Homo sapiens: one gene and its partners. The protein of the gene in region 4 purifies or fractionates together with the protein of the main gene of each other region. This does not show direct contact. Each region holds a gene or a part of one and is shown on either strand. Other genes may lie near its edges. The genes, in order: DFFA, DFFB, CMBL, FAM111A and NAXD.

Region 1 (3,516 bases), on a different chromosome or scaffold from region 4:
CCTACAGTCTCAGCTACCTGAGAGGTTGAGGTGGGAGGATGGCTTGAGCCCAGGAAGTCGAGGATGCAGTGAGCTATGATCATGCCACTGCACTGGGTGACAAAGCAAGACCCTGTCTCAAAGAGAAATTTTCTTTGAATGAAAACATACTGTTTTTATCCCAATCTTTTTTTTCTTTTTGAGATGGAGTCTCTCTCTGTCACCCAGGCTGGAGTGCAGTGGTGCGATCTCGGCTCACTGCAAGCTCCACCTCCTGGGTTCAGGCGATTCTTCTGCCTCAGCATCCCGAGTAGCTGGGACTACAGGTACAGGTGCACACCACCAGGCCCGGCTAATTTTTTGTATTTTTAGTAGAGATGGGGTTTTACCATGTTAGCCAGGATGGTCTCGATCTCCTGACCTCGTGATCTGCCCGCCTCGGCCTCCCAAAGTGCTGAGATTACAGGCGTGAGCCACTGCACCTGGCCTATCCCAATCTTACTAGAGAGAAAACACAAGGAGAGAAGCTAAGCTACTGGCTCAAAGTCGTGGTGACAGCGCTGGGATGTGAAGCCATCTACTCCAACGCTACATTCTCTAGCAGGGCATCCCTGACCCCAGCGTCCACCTAACTAGGTTTAGGGTGGATCCCAGGCATTTGTATTAAAAAAAAAATCTGGCCGGGCACGGTGGCTCACGCCTATAATCTCAGCACTTTGGGAGGCTGAGGCAGGTGGATCACTTGAACTCAGGAGCAGCCTGGCCAACATGATGAAACGCTGTCTCTACTAAAAATACCAAAATTAGCCAGGCGTGTTGGTGTGCACCTGTAATTCCAGCTACCTGGGACGCTGAGACAGGAGAATTGCTTGAACCCGGGAGGTGGAGACTGCAGTGAGCTGAGATTGCACCACTGCACTCCAGCCTGGGCGACAGAGTAAGACTGTGTCTCAAAAAAAAAAAAAAAAAAAAAAAAAAATCCACAGGTAATTCTGCTTCGTGACGAGGGTTGAAAAATTACTCTAGGTGAGAATGAGAAGATGAAAAATCTTAGTTGTAATTTAAGAATTATTTAAAAATTAAGATTAAAACAAAGAAATTGCTATGGCAAGTATGGAAGCTAAGAAGGTGCTGGGGCGGGGGGCAGAGGCTGGATGAACATTGTTGCAGGTTGTGGAGGAGGCTTTACCTGGAGGTCCTCCTCTGATAGGAGGATGATGCTGGACAGATCTTCTTTCAGCTGCCTGGCCACATTCTTCCACTTCAACCCTGCCCCGCTGTCTGTTTCATCTACATCAAAGGACTCTTGGGAAATCCAAGCTGTACCTCCATCTGACACATGGGAGAAAATGCCAGTCACAGAACAACCTGAAGTGCTGTTTTCACCTCCTCCCCCAGCACACACAGACCTCTTGAGGATCTAGATTAATTTCAATGGGAAAGAAGCATCTTATCTCAAGGATTCACAGGAGGGTCAATATCCATCCAGGACCTTGATTTTCCCTCTTCTTTCATTTTTTTTTTTTTTGAGACAGAGTCTCACTCTGTTGCCCAGGCTGGAGTGCAGTGGCACGATCTTGGCTCACTGCAACCTCCACTGCCCGAGTTCAAGCGATTCTCCTGCCTCAGCCTTGCAAGTAGCTGGGATTACAGGTGCCCACCACCATGACCAGCTAATTTTGGTATTTTTAGTAGAGACGGGCTTTCACCATGTTGGCCAGGCTGGTCTCAAACTCCTGACTTCAAGTGATCTGCCCACCTCGGTCTCCCAAAGTGCTGGGATTACAGGCATAAGCCACCGTGCCTGACCCTCTTTCATCTTTATCTCTGTGTGCAACGGCTCTGTATTCTTCCATAGAAAAAGCCATTTAAACCCAATGTGTGGTCACACCTACAAGGAATCCAATCACACTTCCCTTTCTGGTTTCTGTGTGTCCAGGTGTGTCCTGTTTTTTATACGAAAACGGTCATTTGTGCCAGCATTTCTCTGTGCTTGGGGATTGGTCCCTTCTTTAACTGGCAGAGCTGTAGCCATCGATTGCTGTCCCTTAGGCCTGAGCACAAAGGTGGCTGGTAGGGCCACTGCTGTAGGATGACTTCCTCAATTTTGTGGCACACTTCAGGACACTTTTTTTTTTTTTAAGTCCCTCCCTAAAACTAATCCCCTCTCAAGACACTTCTTGATCCTTGGTCACCAATGTTAGTCCCCTTTCTATCTCCTGTGATGATGATGATGGCAGGGACAGGTAACAATTATTGAGTCCTTAACTATGTGCCAGGTAAGATCTAAACACTTCATATCAGTGGTTCTCAAGTGGGAGCAATTTTGCCCCCCAGGAGACATCTGACAATATCTGGAGTCATTTATTCTTGGTTATCACAGTTGTGGGGGGAGGTTCGTAACATCTAGGATGCTACTAAACGTCCTATCATACACAAAGCATCCTCTTCACAACTCCAGCCCCAAATGTCAGCAGTGTCATTGAGAAACCCTGGTTTGATATGTACTATATTATCTTTACAACAATCTTAGGGGACAGGTTCTATAATTATTATGTCAACAAGGCACTGAGAAGTTATGTAATTTGCACAAGGTCACCTGGTTAGTAAATGGTAGAGCCAGGATCCAGACCTCAACAGCTGGACTGCAGCCTGCAGCACTGAGCTCCCTGCCAGGCTGCATTTCAGTTGCTGTCTGTCCATGAGTTAGTTGAGAACTGGGCCCATGTCTCATTCATCTATTTTTTTTTTTTTTTGAGACAGAGTCTCGTTCTGTCGCCCAGGCTGGAGTGCAGTGGCACAATCTCAGCTCACTGCAACCTCCACCTCCCAGGTTCAAGCAATTCTCCCGCCTCAGCCTCCCAAGTATCTGGGATTACAGGTGCCTGCCACCATGCTCAGCTAGTTTTTGTATTTTCAGTAGAGATGGACTTTCGCCATGTTGGCCAGGCTGGTCTCAAACTCCTGAGCTCAGGTGATCTGCCCACCGTGCCTGGCCTCATTCATCTTTATCCCCAGGACTCAGCACCATGTCTGGCACATAGAAAGTGCTCAGTAAATATCTGTTGAACAAATGCTTAAAAAGCCAGACAAATGGCAATTGTCTGTGCAGTGAAAGTAATCATGATGGATGCTGTACTGCATAGGCCGTTTTATACATGGCTAGAGTTTCTTACCTGAATTGTTGTATGCCCATTTCTCATTACTAGCCAATGCCACAAACTTAGTATTGGAAGGTAGACACAGAAAGTAATCGTCATCATCCACTATGGTGCCATCCTCTGCCAGGACCAGGGTGACTGGTGTCAGGGACTTATCAATGGCCAGAATGTCACAGGCTGAAAAGAATAAAATATTTGGCAAATGACAAATAACCGTAAGGAAATTACATCTATCCCTGCATCTCAAGTATGTATGGCTCCAGAGCTGAGCAGAACTCCTGGTAGGTAATAACTAGAATCACAATCATCACTTCTAGCACTACCAGAACACTCATCACGTGCCTGATTCTGTTCTAAGTGTTCTTTTCTTTTTTTT
Region 2 (3,516 bases), on a different chromosome or scaffold from region 4:
TGCGGACCACAGGGAAGACGGAAGCTGTGGCCATGGCACCTTCAGTGAGGCAGCCCTGCCTCTGCATTGGGATCACAGGGAAACATCAGGAAGCCGCGGGCAATGGCTGGAAAGGGAGCCTCTGGGACATGGGTCCTTGCTTCTCACGCGCTGGTCCTGCCCTGGCAAGTCAGTACCTTCCTGGCCTCACTTCCCATGAGGTGGGGGTGCTGGTGTGTGATCACACGGGTAACAGTGACAATAACTACCTTGTCCTCTTTGGGAACTCAGAACATATTGTTAGGGGTAATGAGGGAAAAAGAAGGATCTGATTCCAAAGGCAGAGCTTTTTTTTTGTTTGTTTGTTTGAGACGAGTCTCGCTCTGTCACCAAGCTGGAATGCAGTGGTGCGATCTCGGCTCACTGCAACCTCTGCCTCCCAGGTTCAAGTGATTCTCCTGCCTCAGCCTCCCAAGTAGCTGGGATTACAGGCGCCCGCCACCATGCCCGGCTAATTTTTGTGTTTTTAGTAGAGATGGGGTTTCACCATATTGGCCAGGCTGGTCTGGAACTCCTGACCTCAGGTGATCCACCCACATTGGCCTCCCAAAATGCTGGGATTCCAGGCATGAGTCACCACCGTGCCCGGCCAAGGCAGAACTCTGAATCTCCCTAAAGCAGTATACCCTGGAGCAGGGACCAGCCCCCACGGGGTGCGTCTCTCAGTAAGATCACCTGACTTGGTGTATTAGGCCATTCTCGCATTGCTATAAAGAAATAGAGAGTGGGTAATTTATAAAGAAAAGAGGTGCAATTGGCTTACGGTTCAGCAGGCTGTACAGGAAGCATGGCGCTGGCATCTGCTCAGCTGCCGGGGAGGCCTCAGGAAACTCACACTTGTGGTGGAAGGGGAGGCAGGAGCAGGCACATCTCACGTGCGGGGAGCAGGAACGAGAGAGAGATTGAGGGGAGGGTGCTACTTTTAAGCCAGATCTCAGGAGGACTCACACTGGCGTGGGCAGCACCCAGGCGATGGTGCTAGACCCTTCATGAGAAATCCACCCCCAGGATCCATCACCTCCCACCAGGCCCCGCCTCCCACACTAGTGCTGACATTTCAACATGAGCTCTGGGTGGGGCTGCACGTCCAAAGCATGTCACTCGGTGACTGAGACTGTATGAGACTCACTTCTGGCCGGGCGCGGTGGCTCAACGCCTGTAATCCCAGCACTTTGGGAGGCCAAGGCGGGCGGATCACGAGGTCAAGAGATCGAGACCATCCTGGCCAACAAGGTGAAACCCTGTCTCTACTGAAAATACAAAAATTAGCCGGGCCTGATGGCGGGCACCTGTAGTCCCAGCTACTCGGGAGGCTGAGGCAGGAGAATCGCTTCAACACGGGAGGCGGAGGTTGTAGTAAGCCGAGATCGGGCCACTGCACTCCAGCCTGGCGACAGAGCGAGGCGCTGTCTCAAGAAAAAAAAAAAAAGAGACTCACTTTCTGGCCTTCCCTCATTGTCTTTTGGCCCCCAGGGTCCCTTTGACATGGACAGCTGCTTATCAAGACACTCCATCAACCCCTACAGTAACAGGGAGAGCAGGATCCTCTTCAGCACCTGGAACCTGGATCACATGTAAGCTCACAGAGCGAGGTTCAGACCCACGAGTGCCTGCAGGGCCCTGTCCCTGCCGTGGCCCTGTCCCTGCCATGGCCCTGTCCCTGCCACGGCCCTGTCCCTGCCACGGTGTTGCCTCCTTGGGTTTCAAGGGCTGCACCCGTGTTACAGCCCAGGGAAGGGGTACCTGATGGCAGCATAGGGGGCTGCTGAGTGGGCACACACCATTCCCTCCACTGTCAGCATGTGTACCTGACCCGGAGCCAGCCCTCCTGTCCCCTCCAGTCCTCCCTGTGGATGGAGCTGGTGGGCAGCGTCCTTCCCCAGAACACAGGTCCCAGCCCTTGGCTGTCAGAGGTTCTGAACCTCTGTGAGTTTGAACCAGGGTGAGCTCAGACAGCGGGAGCTCCTGGTGTTATGATAGGTAAGGGTGTTTTTCCCTTTTTCTTTTTCTTTTAGAGATGGAGTCTTGCTCTGTGGCCCAGGCTAAAGTGCAGTGGCAGGATCATGGCTCACTGAAGCCCTGAACTCCTGGCCTCAAGCAATCCTCCTGCCTCAGCCTCCTGAGTCGCTGGGACTACAGGTGCTCGCCACCATGCCTGGCTGGCTTATTTTGTGGAACCAGCATGAGCAGAAGTCTCAGCAGGCAGGAGTGTTTCACAGCCGTACGAGCTCTATGGCTCTAACAAATGGGCAGGATGGAAAACTTCATTCTTTTAAACTGAGATGCATTCCTTGAATATAATTGTAGCCTTGCCCTTGCTTTTTGAAGACAGAAGCCTTCAAATGCCCTTAAAATGGCTGTACAGGATGAGCATCCCTAATCTGAAAACCTGAAATCCGAAGTGCTCCAAAATTCAAAACGTTTTGCGACCAACATGACGCTCAGAGGAGATGCTCATCCGGGCATTTAGGATTTGGGATTTTTTTTTTTTTTTTTCTGAGATGGAGTTTTGCTCTTGTTGCCCAGGCTGGAGTGCAATGATGTGATCTCGGCTCACCGCAACCTCCGCCTCCCGGGTTCAAGCGATTCTCCTACTTTAGCTTCCCCAGTAGCTGGGATTACAGGCACGTGGCACCACGTCCAGCTAATTTTGTATTTTTAGTAGAGACGGGATTTCTCCATGTTGGTCAGGCTGGTCTTGAACTCCTGACCTCAGGTGATCCGCCCGCCTCAGTCTCCCAAAGTTCTGGGGTTACAGGTGTGAGCCACTGCATCCGGCCAGATGTGGGATTTTTTTAAGGATGCTCAGCTAGTCAGTATAATGTAAATATTCCAAAATCCTAAAAAAATCCCAAATCCAAAACACTTCTGGTCCCCAGCATTTCAGATGGGGACATTCAACCTGTATTGCTTTCGGAGTGAGATTTTTTTTTAAAGTATGTAAAACACTATGGTCATAGTTGAGCTTTTACCCTGTCCATACTCAGCCTCTACACCTTGCCCCGAGGGAAAACACTTGTGAAAGGTGTGTGTGCCCTTCAGAGCCCTCTCACTGCACCTTTACCACAAGCGTGTGAGTTTATCATGTACATACATGGTGGCCCACGCTGTCATCTGCAGAGCCGTGTAGCTGCACCTTTACCACACGCGTGTGAGTTTAACATGCACGTACGTGGCCTCCCACGCTGTGGTCTGCAGAGCCGTGTAGCTACACCTTTACCACACGCATGTGAGTTTAACATGTACATATGTGGCCTCCCATGCTGTGGTCTGCAGAGCCGTGTAGCTGCACCTTTACCACACGCGTGTGGGTTTAACATGCACATACGTGGTGGCCCACGCTGTGGTCTGCAGAGCCGTGTAGCTGCACCTTTACCACACGCGTGTGGGTTTAACATGCACATACGTGGCCTCCCACGCTGTGGTCTGCAGAGCCGTGTAGCTGCACCTTTACCACACGCGTGTGGGTTTAACATG
Region 3 (3,516 bases), on a different chromosome or scaffold from region 4:
CTCAATAATTCAACATTGTCATTTGACACCATTTCAGAAAAACTCTCAAGCCATGTTTCCCTCTGCTCTCACAATACAGCGATCATCAACACCATGACCAAAGGTAAGGGGTGGGGGCGCGTGGGGCAGTGAGGGCTCAGTTCCAAGACTGCCCCACCCCTCAGACACAAGCAGCAAGTTCAGGCCTGTAGAGCTTTCTTTTTTTCTTTTTCTTTTCGGGTTTTTTTTTTTTTGGAGACGGAGTCTCGCTCTCTCACCCAGGCTGGATTGCAGTGCACGATCTCCGCTCACTGCAAACTCCGCCTCCCAGGTTCAAGCGATTCTCCTGCCTCAGCCTCCCAAGTAGCTGGGACTACAGGTGCCCGCCACTATGCCCGGCTAATTTTTATATTTTTAGTAGAGACGGGGTTTCACCATGTTCGCCAGGCTGGTCTGGGCTGACTTCTTATCTGGGCTGACTTCTTATCTGGGCTGTTTGTTGGCTATGAGGACCTAGGGATCACAGAAAATCCTGGCCATTCCAGGAAGCCTCTAATCTGAATGTTTTTACTTTATTTTCAGTTGACATCCATTTTGCAAAAGGAATGCTTACAGCCAGGCGAGCAGCCCTCTAGGCTGATCCTGCAAGGTTATTCTCCTACAGGAGACGCCCGTGTGTGTCGAAGGCTGGACTCCTGCCCAGACCCTCCACGTGGGCACAGCAGCCAGGCCACGCCTTGTGCCAGGGGCCAAGTCCACAATGGGCAGGGCGAACAGTTTCTACCCTGGCAAGTCTCAGGGAACATACCCTTGACTCTCAACTAACTGTACTATATTTTCTGTATATACCTTTCAGGATTTTAGCTTCCTCCTGCAAATGCACTGTAAACCAAAAATAAAATTCCAAGCATCCCAACTAACTGAATGGACCTCTCCTCTTGGCCAAGGCGATTCCAAAGAAACCTGTAAAACTAATTCAGGCCATGACAGGAAGGAGGGGCTAGGCTCAGTGGCTCATGCCTATAATTCAGCACATTGGAAGGCCAAGGCTGGTGGATCACTTGAGGCAAGGATCCAAGACCAGCCTGGCCAACATGGCAAAACCTTGTCTCTACTAAAAAAAAAAAAAAAAAATTAGCCAGGCATGGTGGTGCATACCTGTAATCCCAGCTACTTGGGCGGCTGAGGCAGGAGAATCGCTTGAACCCAGGAGGTTGCAGCGAGACTCTGTCTCAAAAAAAAAAAAAAGACAGGAAGGAGGAGTCCAACATACCTCATTATTCCCTCCTCCATTGAAGTTCAGGCACAAATGACCAGCATTAACATTCAAACAGAGGTCTCAAGACTGACGAAACAGACTTTTTGTAGAAATAAGGTATGAAATTCCAACCTGACTCAAATACAGCATCCAAGGATATAGACAGCAGGCCCTGAAACAAATCAAGTATTTTACCCCAAAATATTTTTGACATATTTTGAAAGGGCCCTGCAAAGCTATCTCTTGTAGGGGAAACTTACATTCTGTAGAGAATCCCCTTCCCTTTCCAGGTCTCTTTCTGATCCTGAAAAGATTACCTGAGAGTCTGGCAGCTTTTAAAGGTCTGAACAGAAAACATTTGCTATCTATTGCCTCTAAGGGTAGCCATCTATGAGACTTCACCTACATAATAAGAACTTTGGTCTCCCAAACCTCTTATCTTAACCCAGACCCTCCTTTCTATTGATTCCAGGTCTTTCATTATTAATTTAACTCTTTCAACCAAGCACCAATCAGAAAACCTTTGAATCCCCCTGTGACCTGTAAGCTACCACCCTGACCCTGCCATCCCCGATCTTTGAGTTGTCCCACCTTTCCAGACTGAACCAATGTATACCTCACATGTATTGATCGAGTTCCTATGTCTCCCTAAATGTATAAAACCAAGCTGTAACTCAGCCACCTTGGGCACATGTTCTCAGGCCCTCTGGGGGCTGTGTCATGGGTCATGGTCCTCACATTTGGCTCAGAATAAACCTCTTCAAACATTTTACAGAGTTTGACTTCCTTCTGTCAACAACACATGTATTTATTAAAAGATAATTTTCAGAAAGAAGTAAAACCATCACTCTTCAACAGATATAAAAACAAACAACATTGAGGATTGTACTCTACTTGAACGACAGGAAAAAACTAACAGATGTTCTAACAGGCTTGAAGGAAAATCAAAAGAGCACAAATGCAGCACTGGAAAGTGTAAACTAAAAACTCTAAGCCCCCAACCAACTGACTGGATCATCTCTTCACCAAGGAGACCCCAGAATAACCTTAAAAACTGAGTTATTGGCCATACAACTCAGTTATATAGTTATGGGTTGGGGGATCACACACCTCTCATTATCCGCTCCTGACTCACTAATCACCATGAGGCTTTCTTTTCTAAAGGCTAAACAGAAACTAGCCTCTTCAAACAACCCCACACTGATATCACCCAGCCGCATGACACTGCCCTCCTTTTTGCCTGATAACAAAACACCAACCATGACATGGTTCTGGCCTGTCTACAGAGGGTGCACAGTAAGGATTTTTGTGTCCTCTGCTTCAGCTTTTAACAACAGAGGGCCAAAAATACCACCCTTGGATCATGCTAACGCAGTCATTTTTTGAACATGGCTCCCATGAAGAGGCAAAAAGCTCAATTGCCCACGTACACGGTTCTCCTTCAAAAATATTCATGGCTGAGAACAGTGGCTCATGCCTATACTCCCAACACTTTGGGAGGCCAAGACAGGAGGATCACTTGAGTCCAGGAGTTCAAGACCTGCCTGGGCAACACAGGGAGACCCCATCTCTACAAAAAAAAAAAAAATTAGAAAATTAGCCAGGCTTGGTGGCACACACCTGTGGTCCCAGCCTTTTAGGAGGCTGAGCTAGGAGGAGCACTTGGGCCCAGGAGGTCAAGACTGCAGTGAGCCAATGATCATGCCACTGCACTCCAGCCTGGGGGAGTGAATGAAACCCTGTCTCAAAAGTATTAGCTAATCCATTATTTTAAAAATTCATAACCCCTCCTATAGCTTATTGAATCTGTGTGTTTGGCCACACTGTTCAGCACAGATCCCTGTACTATTCTTCCCACACTGGAAGGGTCTGTTTCCAGCTTCTGGCCAGAGACTACACTTCCCAGCCTGTCAGAATGGCCGCTTTGCGGGCTGCAACACTTTATGAGAAATAAAGCTCTCTTTTTCCAAATTTATGAAACTCATCATTCTTTAGTTGACAAAAGAAATGTTGAGATGAATTGCAAATGAAGACAAAATATCTTTTTGGCCAAACGCAGTGGCTCACACCTGTAATCCCAGCACTTTGGGAAGCTGAGGCAAGAGGATTGCTTGAGGCTGGGAGTTAGAGACCAGCCTAGACAACATGTTTTTTTTTTAACTTTTTTCCACAGGAGGGGAAAGAGTCCATTAATTCTGCATGGAAACGGGATAGAATTTACAGATCTATCAGATCTGCCACTTACTCCTAAAAATGGCTCAAGTACAATGAATGGAGCT
Region 4 (3,516 bases):
ACCCAATGCCAAGGATAGGTAAGTCTAATATTGGTAAACAGGCTTTAGTATCTGTGAGTTCTGTATCTATGGGTTCAACCAACTGCAGATTGAAAATATTTTGGGAAAAAAAAAATGAGTGTGCCTGAACTAAACGTGCATGACTTTTTTTTTCTTGTCATTATTCCCTAAGCAATACAGTATATCAACATTTTACAGAGCATTTACCTTGTATTAGGTAATACAAATAATCCAGAGATGATTTAAAGTATACAGGAGGATATGATACATTATATGCCAATACTATGCCATGTTATGTGAAGAATTTGAGCATTCATGGATTTTGGTATCCAAGAGAGGTCCTGGAACAAATCTCACATGGATACCAAGGGATGACTAGATTACATAAGTAGAATTTACAGACATACCGGAGAAAAATAGTGCTCGATTTTCATATTACATTTTTCATTGACTGAGTGCTTCCGTGACCTCTGCTTCTTACAGCTCATGATGGCTTGAAGATGAACGGATGGTTCAGCTGAAACACTAATTTCAAATTTTCAAATTATAGCAGTATCTTCAAAGCTGTCATTAATTGTACAGAGGAAAAGATTAGCTGGTGTCCTGCGTCCCATCTTTCCCCTTAGGCTCCAACCTTGCTCTCCCTGGAGATGGTACCTTAGCAAATAGATAGTTTATTCACCAACTATAATCACCTTAACAATAAAAGCTCTCTTTTCGAGAACACTGCGTGTCAGGCACTTCATGAAAATTATACTAAACACTTTATGAAAATTATCTCTAGCTGCAAATTCCTGCGGATGCTATGCAAATTAGGTATAGCTACACTTTGCTGATGGGGAAAGTATAGCTTAGAGAAGGTAGACGAACTGCCCAAGGCCAGAGCTATGTGGCAGAGATGGAATTCAAATGCAAGTATAAATAATAGAATAATTTTCAGTTGGAAATTTCAAAAAGCTGTTCTAGTTACATTGATGTTAAAATCTGTTATTCATTTAAGATGAAGATGGCAAGGGGAGATAAAATTACAGGGAAGTGGTGAGGATAGAGCTGAGGAAAGAAACTTGGAATGAGATTTTAAAAAGAAATCTGGAAAGTTTGCTAGGGATGATAGTCAGAAACCTTAGTTGCTGCTTTAGATTTTTTGTTTAAAGAGGTATTTTTCCTTCTATCTCTCCTCTGATGTCTCCCTAGAAGAGGATGAACAAACTTTAAATAAAATAGTGACATCTTCAATAGTAATAAATACCGCTAGAAAGATAAATACCATTGAGGGCAGCAGCCATGTCTGTCCTTAGTACCTCAATATTTCAAAACAATGTCTGAGACATGTCAGGCCCTTGAAAAAGATACATTTCTAAAGATACATTCAATAAACGAATGGAGTAGGCATATGGTGTACTATGCCCTGTTCTAAGTGCTTTTCATCAACTATCTCATGTAATTCTTACAACCCTATGAGATAGGTACTATTTGTCTCATTTTACTGGCAAAAGAGCTTGAACACCCAGGGAGATTAAACTTTTACTCAAGGTCATAAAACTCAGAGAATATACTTTCAGGACTTTTTATTATGAACAATTTATTAGAGAAAAAATGAGAGAATGGTATAATGAACTTCTACATACCTATCACATAGTTAATTGTTCATTTTTTTGCCAATTTATGTAACAGTGAAACAGTAAAAGAACTAACATAAAGAACTCTATTTTTGTTCACGGGGTCTTTATCCATTCATGCATGGAGGGGAGGTTAATTTTAGAGCAGTGAGATAATATGCAAAAAAAATGTAGTTTTAAAAACTAGCTCTGGGATTAAAGGGAAAGTATGTAAACAACTATGGATTGTTAAAAATTTACAGGAGGGTTGTGACCTGGAGAACAAATATAAATATAATCTTTAGATAACTTCCATTTGACAAGAAATACAGGGGCTAGAACATAAGCTAAACAACAACATGTAGAAGCAGCCCAGGAAATTAACATTCTATAGAGACAACTTATCTGTTCTCTTCAGCAAATCAATGCTTGGGCTCACTGGAACATCAGGACAAAGACATTCCCAACCTTCTTGGATCCTTGATGGTGCTCAGATGTCTCCAGTCAATGGTCACCTCTTGATCGTAAATCCCTTCTCTTCCCCATGCCCTTAACATAAAGAGCCTGAAACTTGTACTCACTTAAGAGGCTACTTTGGGTTGCTAGTCTGCCATCTTCTCAGTTTGCTGGCTCTCTGAATGAACCTGCTTTTCCTCCCACCAACTCTCATCTCTCATGTTTGGCTTTGAGGTGTGAGTTGCCAAACCCGGGTTTGGCTACCCTTACACCATCCTTTTATTTTACTAGATGATTTATGTTACAGCTAGAAACATCATGACATTTAAACGCTAATGGTCACTTCCCATCTCTAAAAATTACATAATTTTTCTTTTATAATCACAATACTGATTTATTCATACCAAGATCCAACTGAGGTACACAGTTTCCTTTATATGTCTTATAAGGCTCTTTTATTCTAGAAAAAGCACTGATTTGTTGAAGAGAACAGAGAAATTGTCTCTATAGAATGTTCACCTCCTGGGTTGTTTCCTCATGTCATTGTTTAACTTATGTTCTAGCCCCTGTATTTCTTGTCAAATGGAAGTTATCTAAAGGCTATGTTTACTCTCGTAACCATTCCACTATGGAACAAGAGTCCTGGCTTTCTAGTTTACTGTCAGTCATTGACTAGGGAAATTCATTTAGCCTTTCTGAGCCTCAATTTCTTGTTTGTAAAAAGAAGCAATGATTCTAAATGAGATAATGAATATGGAAGTGCTAAAATAATGTTAGAACTTATAAAACTGTCTGAGTTCAAATATCAGGTAGCCACTTACTAGCTGCATGACCTTGGGCATATTAATTAACTATTCTTCCTTCATTTTCCTCACCTTAAGGTGGGAATCAACCTTGTTATAAAGATTAAGAAATATATTGTGGTCTGGGTGCGGTAGCTCATGCCTGTAATCTCAGCACTTTGGGAGGCCAACGCTGATGGATCACTTGAAGTCAGGAGTTCGAGGCCAGCTTGGCCAACCTGGTGAAAACCTGTCTCTACTAAGAATTAAAAATTAGCTGGGCATGGTGGTGGGTGCCTGTAATCCCAGCTACTTGGGAGACTGAGGCAGGAGAGTGGCTTGTACCTGGGAGGCAGAGGTTGCAGTGATCCGAGATCACACCACTGCCCTCCAGCCTGAGGCCTGAGCAACAGAGCGAGACTTCATCTCTCTCTCTCTCTCTCTGTCACACACACACACACAATATATATATACACACATACACACACATATTATATATATTATATATGCAATCTATCTATATATACAGTGTGTGTAAATATATATATATATAGAGAGAGAGAGAGAGCATATGCAAAGCCTTTAAAACACTGCCTGTATGTAATAGGTCCCCCAGTAAATAATCAATAAAAAGGTCATGTAAATGTTATCAATATCAATACACTCACCACAGGGATACT
Region 5 (4,316 bases), on a different chromosome or scaffold from region 4:
CCTGGGTAGCTGGGATTACAGGCGCCCGCCACCATGTCCGGCTAATTTTTTGTATTTTTAGTAGAGACAGGGTTTCACCGTGTTAGCCAAGATGGTCTCGATCTCCTGACCTTGTGATCCACCCGCCTCGGCCTCCCAAAGTGCTGGGCTTACAGGCATGAGCCACCACGCCCGGCCTCTTCATAATAAATCTTGCTGCTGCTCACTCTTTGGGTCTATGCCACCTTTAAGAGCTGTAACACTGTGAAGGTCCGCAGCTTCATTCTTGAAGTCAGTGAGACCATGAACCCACCGGCAGGAACTAACTCCACACATAGTTATAGTTATCTCTTGATTATAGGCTAAATAAGGAGGGGATTATTCATGAGTTTTCTGGGAAAGAGGTTGGCAATTGCTGGAACTGAGGGTTCCTCCCCTTTTTAGACCATATAGAGTAATTTCCTGATGTTGCCATAGCATTTGTAAACTCTCATGGCGCTGGTAGGAGTGTCCTTTAGCATGCTAATACGTTATAATCAGCAAATAATGAGCAATGAGGACACAGAGGTCACTTTTGTGGCCATCTTGGTTTTGGTAGGCTTTGGGCCAGTTTCTTTACTGTGTCATCTTATCAGTGCGGTCTTTGTGACCTGTATCTTGTGCCCACCACCTCATCCTGTGGCCAAGAATGTCTAACCCCCTGGGAATGCAGCCCAGTAGGTCTCACCCTCATTTTACCCAGTCCCTATTCAAGATGGAATCGCTCTGGTTAAAAGGCCTCTGACATGTTGAGCCATCCTTTCACCTCAGCCTCTCAAGTAGCTGGACTACAGGTGTGCCACACCATCCCCTGCTAATTTTCCAAAAAAATTTTGGTAGAGAAGGGGGTCTCCTTATGTTGTCCAGGCTGGTCTCAAACTCCTGGGCTCAAACGATCCTTCCATCTTGGCCTCCCAAAGCATTGGGATCACACGCGCGAGCCACCGCACCTGGCCCCACAAGTTTCTTTTAGCACCATGACGGTGGCTTCAAATAGGGCGGCAGTGGAGGTAAGAGGCCATCAGCCACAGGAGGAGCGTGGGTGGGAGGGCAGGAGAGGTCAGAATGCCTTCCAGGGGTTTGGGCCTCAGCGTTGGAGTGATGGAGCTGCCCTGACCTGAGACGGTGGAAAGCGAAGGGGCCTCGCAGCGAGCTGGTTTGGGGTTCAGGGCAGAGGTTGCGCCTGGAGCAGAAAGGCACCTGACTGCTATACTGGGGGCACATAGTGGGCCTCGGCACTCCACCTGCCAGCAAAATCATTTTCTATAACGCCGCAAGCCTAAAAATGGGCCGATAAACACAAACCAGACCCTGAACCAGATCGTTGTTAACTCTTCAACCTGCCTTCCAGCCGAACCTCTTAGGCCAGAGCTGGGACCAGGCCGGGTTGGGCGTCGCGCTTGTCAATCATCTAGAACCGGGTGTGATTGAGCGAGTTGGGATCCCACTGCCGACAGCCGCGCGGAGGCGGTCGGGAAACCGGAAAACGCTTCCAATGGCTGTGTTTCCGGCGACGGCGCGGGGGCAGCTGGGAATCCGGAATGCTGCCCGATGGCCCTGGGTCCTCGCTGTGGGGCAATCCGGGCTTGCAGACGAGGTAAGGTCGATTCCATTTGGCCCGGGGATGGTCACACGCGCGGGGGCCGGAACTGCCGTCGCCGGCGCGGTCGTTGTCGCATTGCTCTCGGCCGCACTCGCGCTGTACGGGCCGCCACTGGACGCAGGTACCCGACCGCTGACCGCCTCTGCTGGCTCGCGGGGGGGAAGCGCCGCCGAGGGGCAGCCCGCGCGCGGGGCCGGGGCGCCGTGTGGCCTGCGGGGCGGAGTAGGGAGAGGACGGAGGCCTCCTGGAACGGCGCGGCGACGGCTGGGCGCGGCTTGGGTGATGGGAGCCTCCGTGCGGGGTGACAGAGGGGCAGAGGGTGGCGCCGGGCCGGAGCCAGTGCGCGTCCCAGGAGCGGCGGAGCCCGCGCGGTGGCCGGGGAACGGGGGGCCGAGGGCCGAGGACGGTAGGAGGGCCCTGGGGCGCCGTGGTGCGCTGGTCGGATCCGTCTGCTCTGCTCTGTCCCCGCTCCCGGTCTGGGAAAGATGCTCGCCAACTGCGGGCTTGCTGTTTGGTCGGAGCTGGATACGGGGGCCCTCCTGGGGCCCAGGGACGCGGCGGGCGTGCAGGCGAGCTGGCCGGCTGAGCGGGCTTCGCGCACACCAGGAGCAGGGCCGTGTCTGCATCCCCAATTTGAAGTCCCAGTGCGACTGGGCAAGTACAGACCCTGCACGTCCTTGGACGAGAGGGACTGGATATTGCGACGCCTGGGCCGCAGAAAAGGACTCCACCAGCCAGGCCTCCTTCGCCCGCCCCCGGTTCGGGGTGTGTGTGTGCGTGTAGGAGGTCCCTTGGGGAGGGAGGCTCACCTGAGTCATCCCCAGAACCTGAAGTGCTGGCCAGATGTCCCCGAGGGCCCTGCCCTGGCCTTGGCTGGTCCTTGCACGCTGAGATGCCTTTTCAAATAGAACGGATAAGGTAGAAAGAATTTAAACAGGAGCTGAGCAAGTGCTTGGAGCCCCATCTCTTCATAGGGTTTTTTTGTCTTTCTGTTTGCCTTGTTGGTATTGGTGTATCTAACATATTTTATACAGGAAGTAGTTCGTGTATATCTCATTTCTCATAAGGAGAGATTGCTGTTATCCACCTTGGTATAGAAGATAAATAGAAGCTCAGAGAAAGTGACTTAGCCAGGATTCTCCAGCCAGTGAGTGGCCGAAATGGTTAAACGCACCATTTGTTGCTGTAGTCATTAGATAGATTTTACCTTGTGTGTATGTTGGGCATCGTCAGAGAGTTTGGCTTTTTGTTTTCATCAGCACACACTGAGAATGCACTGGGTGGCGCTGAGAGGGTACTCTACACTGCACCTCACTCACACCAGCAGGGAGGCTTCTTAACACTTTATTTAGAGATTTATTTGTAGCTCTTTACCTTAAATTCACACACCGTGATTAGTAGCAAGATTTTTCATTGCGCTTGGTTGAGGATTTATTATCAGACTGCCTAAACTTTTACGAAAAGCCAGGTAGAGTTGTATATTACTGAGGCTTTAGGAAATATTTCAGTTAACTTAGGGATTGTGGTTAAATGCTCTAAATTAGTTATAACTCACATTAACTTAAAGTATTTTTGTTTTTTTAAGTAGAATTTTCCAGTACTAAAAGCACTTTTAGCACAAAGCAGCAGTGATAGTCTTCCCCAGACACGCTTCCTTAAAACAAAAGCCAAACAAATTTAACCTGTTCTTCCAGACTCAGAATTGTCTGAAGAGTTACCGAATGGGATACATCTTAAGTCGCCTATTGTCAAGGCCTTTTTATCCTTCAGAACTTTGATCTTTATATGTAAATGTTTCTGTGTTAACATTTGAAATGTTAAGTTCAAATGGTGACGTCAGTAAGCCAGCTGGAACTTGCTTCACTGCCAAGTGCTGGGAAGTTTAGTTGACCTGCTTTGGCCCTTTTGCTAACAGAAGCTGTTTATCTTAGGTGAATGCTGGTGAGCAGCCTGGATTTTACTTTGTGTTAATACAATTCTATTCAAGTGAAAATGCTATACTTCTTATTTTGCCTTAAAATGGCAGCATTTTACACCTACTGTGTGCCCACAAAAATAAAAACAAAAACATGGCAGCACTTTGGTAAAATAGTGTCTTGTGGCCTGGCTTGTCCATTACTAACCACAGCATCTGCACAGGTTTCTCTCTGGGCCCCAGTTTCCTTATCTGTAAAAGAAAGATAAAGTGCTAGTGAGGAGAGTGAATCACGATGTCTTGACTTCATCGAACATGTATCAAGTGTCTTGTTCTGTGCCAGGCTGTGTTCGAGGTGATTGAGTCCCACATGGAAGCAGTCAGTGCTGCAGCTTGCGGATGGTGCCACATTCCTCGTGGGCAGGCAGTAGTAGGGTGCTGATTCTCTGCCAGTCCAGACATAAGAACTTCCTTCTTATGTCCAGGTCAGCCCCTACCATGTAGGTTGTCTGTGTGCTCGAAAGGTTTCAGAACCCCACATGTAATAATAGTTACTTTTGGTATCACTTTGAATTTTTAAAATTATGTAGCAAAAAAGTTACTATTAATTATATTATGAGTTTAACATAATTTTAAGCTAGCTTCCATTTGAGAGCCGTTGTTCTCATGTGTAAATCTTGAAATATTCAGTTTCTGGATGGCGCTTCTTGTTCTCCAGGGTTCTTAGACCCAGCCCTTACGGTAGCATCATGGCCAGGGAACTGGGAATCTCACAAAGTC

Evidence for each region.
Region 1: the proteins of FAM111A (region 4) and DFFA purify together in Homo sapiens (co-immunoprecipitation; one large-scale study listed by IntAct). This does not show direct contact.
Region 2: the proteins of FAM111A (region 4) and DFFB purify together in Homo sapiens (co-immunoprecipitation; one large-scale study listed by IntAct). This does not show direct contact.
Region 3: the proteins of FAM111A (region 4) and CMBL purify together in Homo sapiens (co-immunoprecipitation; one large-scale study listed by IntAct). This does not show direct contact.
Region 5: the proteins of FAM111A (region 4) and NAXD purify together in Homo sapiens (affinity purification with mass spectrometry; one large-scale study listed by BioGRID and IntAct). This does not show direct contact.

What each region holds. Positions count from the first base shown.
Region 1 is NC_000001.11:10,466,022-10,469,537, forward strand, and holds part of DFFA (DNA fragmentation factor subunit alpha), read right to left. Parts: intron 3,318-3,516; coding exon 3,156-3,317; intron 1,312-3,155; coding exon 1,169-1,311; intron 1-1,168. UniProt on the Homo sapiens protein: Inhibitor of the caspase-activated DNase (DFF40).
Region 2 is NC_000001.11:3,870,960-3,874,475, forward strand, and holds part of DFFB (DNA fragmentation factor subunit beta), read left to right. Parts: intron 1-1,512; coding exon 1,513-1,613; intron 1,614-2,054; exon of another isoform or gene 2,055-2,178; intron 2,179-3,516. UniProt on the Homo sapiens protein: Nuclease that induces DNA fragmentation and chromatin condensation during apoptosis. Degrades naked DNA and induces apoptotic morphology.
Region 3 is NC_000005.10:10,301,387-10,304,902, forward strand, and holds part of CMBL (carboxymethylenebutenolidase homolog), read right to left. Parts: intron 1,649-3,516; exon of another isoform or gene 1,498-1,648; intron 1,410-1,497; exon of another isoform or gene 1,253-1,409; intron 1-1,252. UniProt on the Homo sapiens protein: Cysteine hydrolase. Can convert the prodrug olmesartan medoxomil into its pharmacologically active metabolite olmerstatan, an angiotensin receptor blocker, in liver and intestine. May also activate beta-lactam antibiotics faropenem medoxomil and lenampicillin.
Region 4 is NC_000011.10:59,145,845-59,149,360, reverse strand, and holds part of FAM111A (serine protease FAM111A), read right to left. Parts: 5' UTR 3,505-3,516; intron 658-3,504; exon of another isoform or gene 565-657; 5' UTR 489-564; coding exon 408-488; intron 1-407. UniProt on the Homo sapiens protein: Single-stranded DNA-binding serine protease that mediates the proteolytic cleavage of covalent DNA-protein cross-links (DPCs) during DNA synthesis, thereby playing a key role in maintaining genomic integrity.
Region 5 is NC_000013.11:110,614,033-110,618,348, forward strand, and holds the start of NAXD (ATP-dependent (S)-NAD(P)H-hydrate dehydratase), read left to right. Parts: upstream 1-1,512; 5' UTR 1,513-1,559; coding exon of another isoform or gene 1,560-1,569; coding exon 1,570-1,615; exon of another isoform or gene 1,616-1,642; coding exon of another isoform or gene 1,643-1,742; exon of another isoform or gene 1,743-2,321; intron 2,322-4,316. UniProt on the Homo sapiens protein: Catalyzes the dehydration of the S-form of NAD(P)HX at the expense of ATP, which is converted to ADP.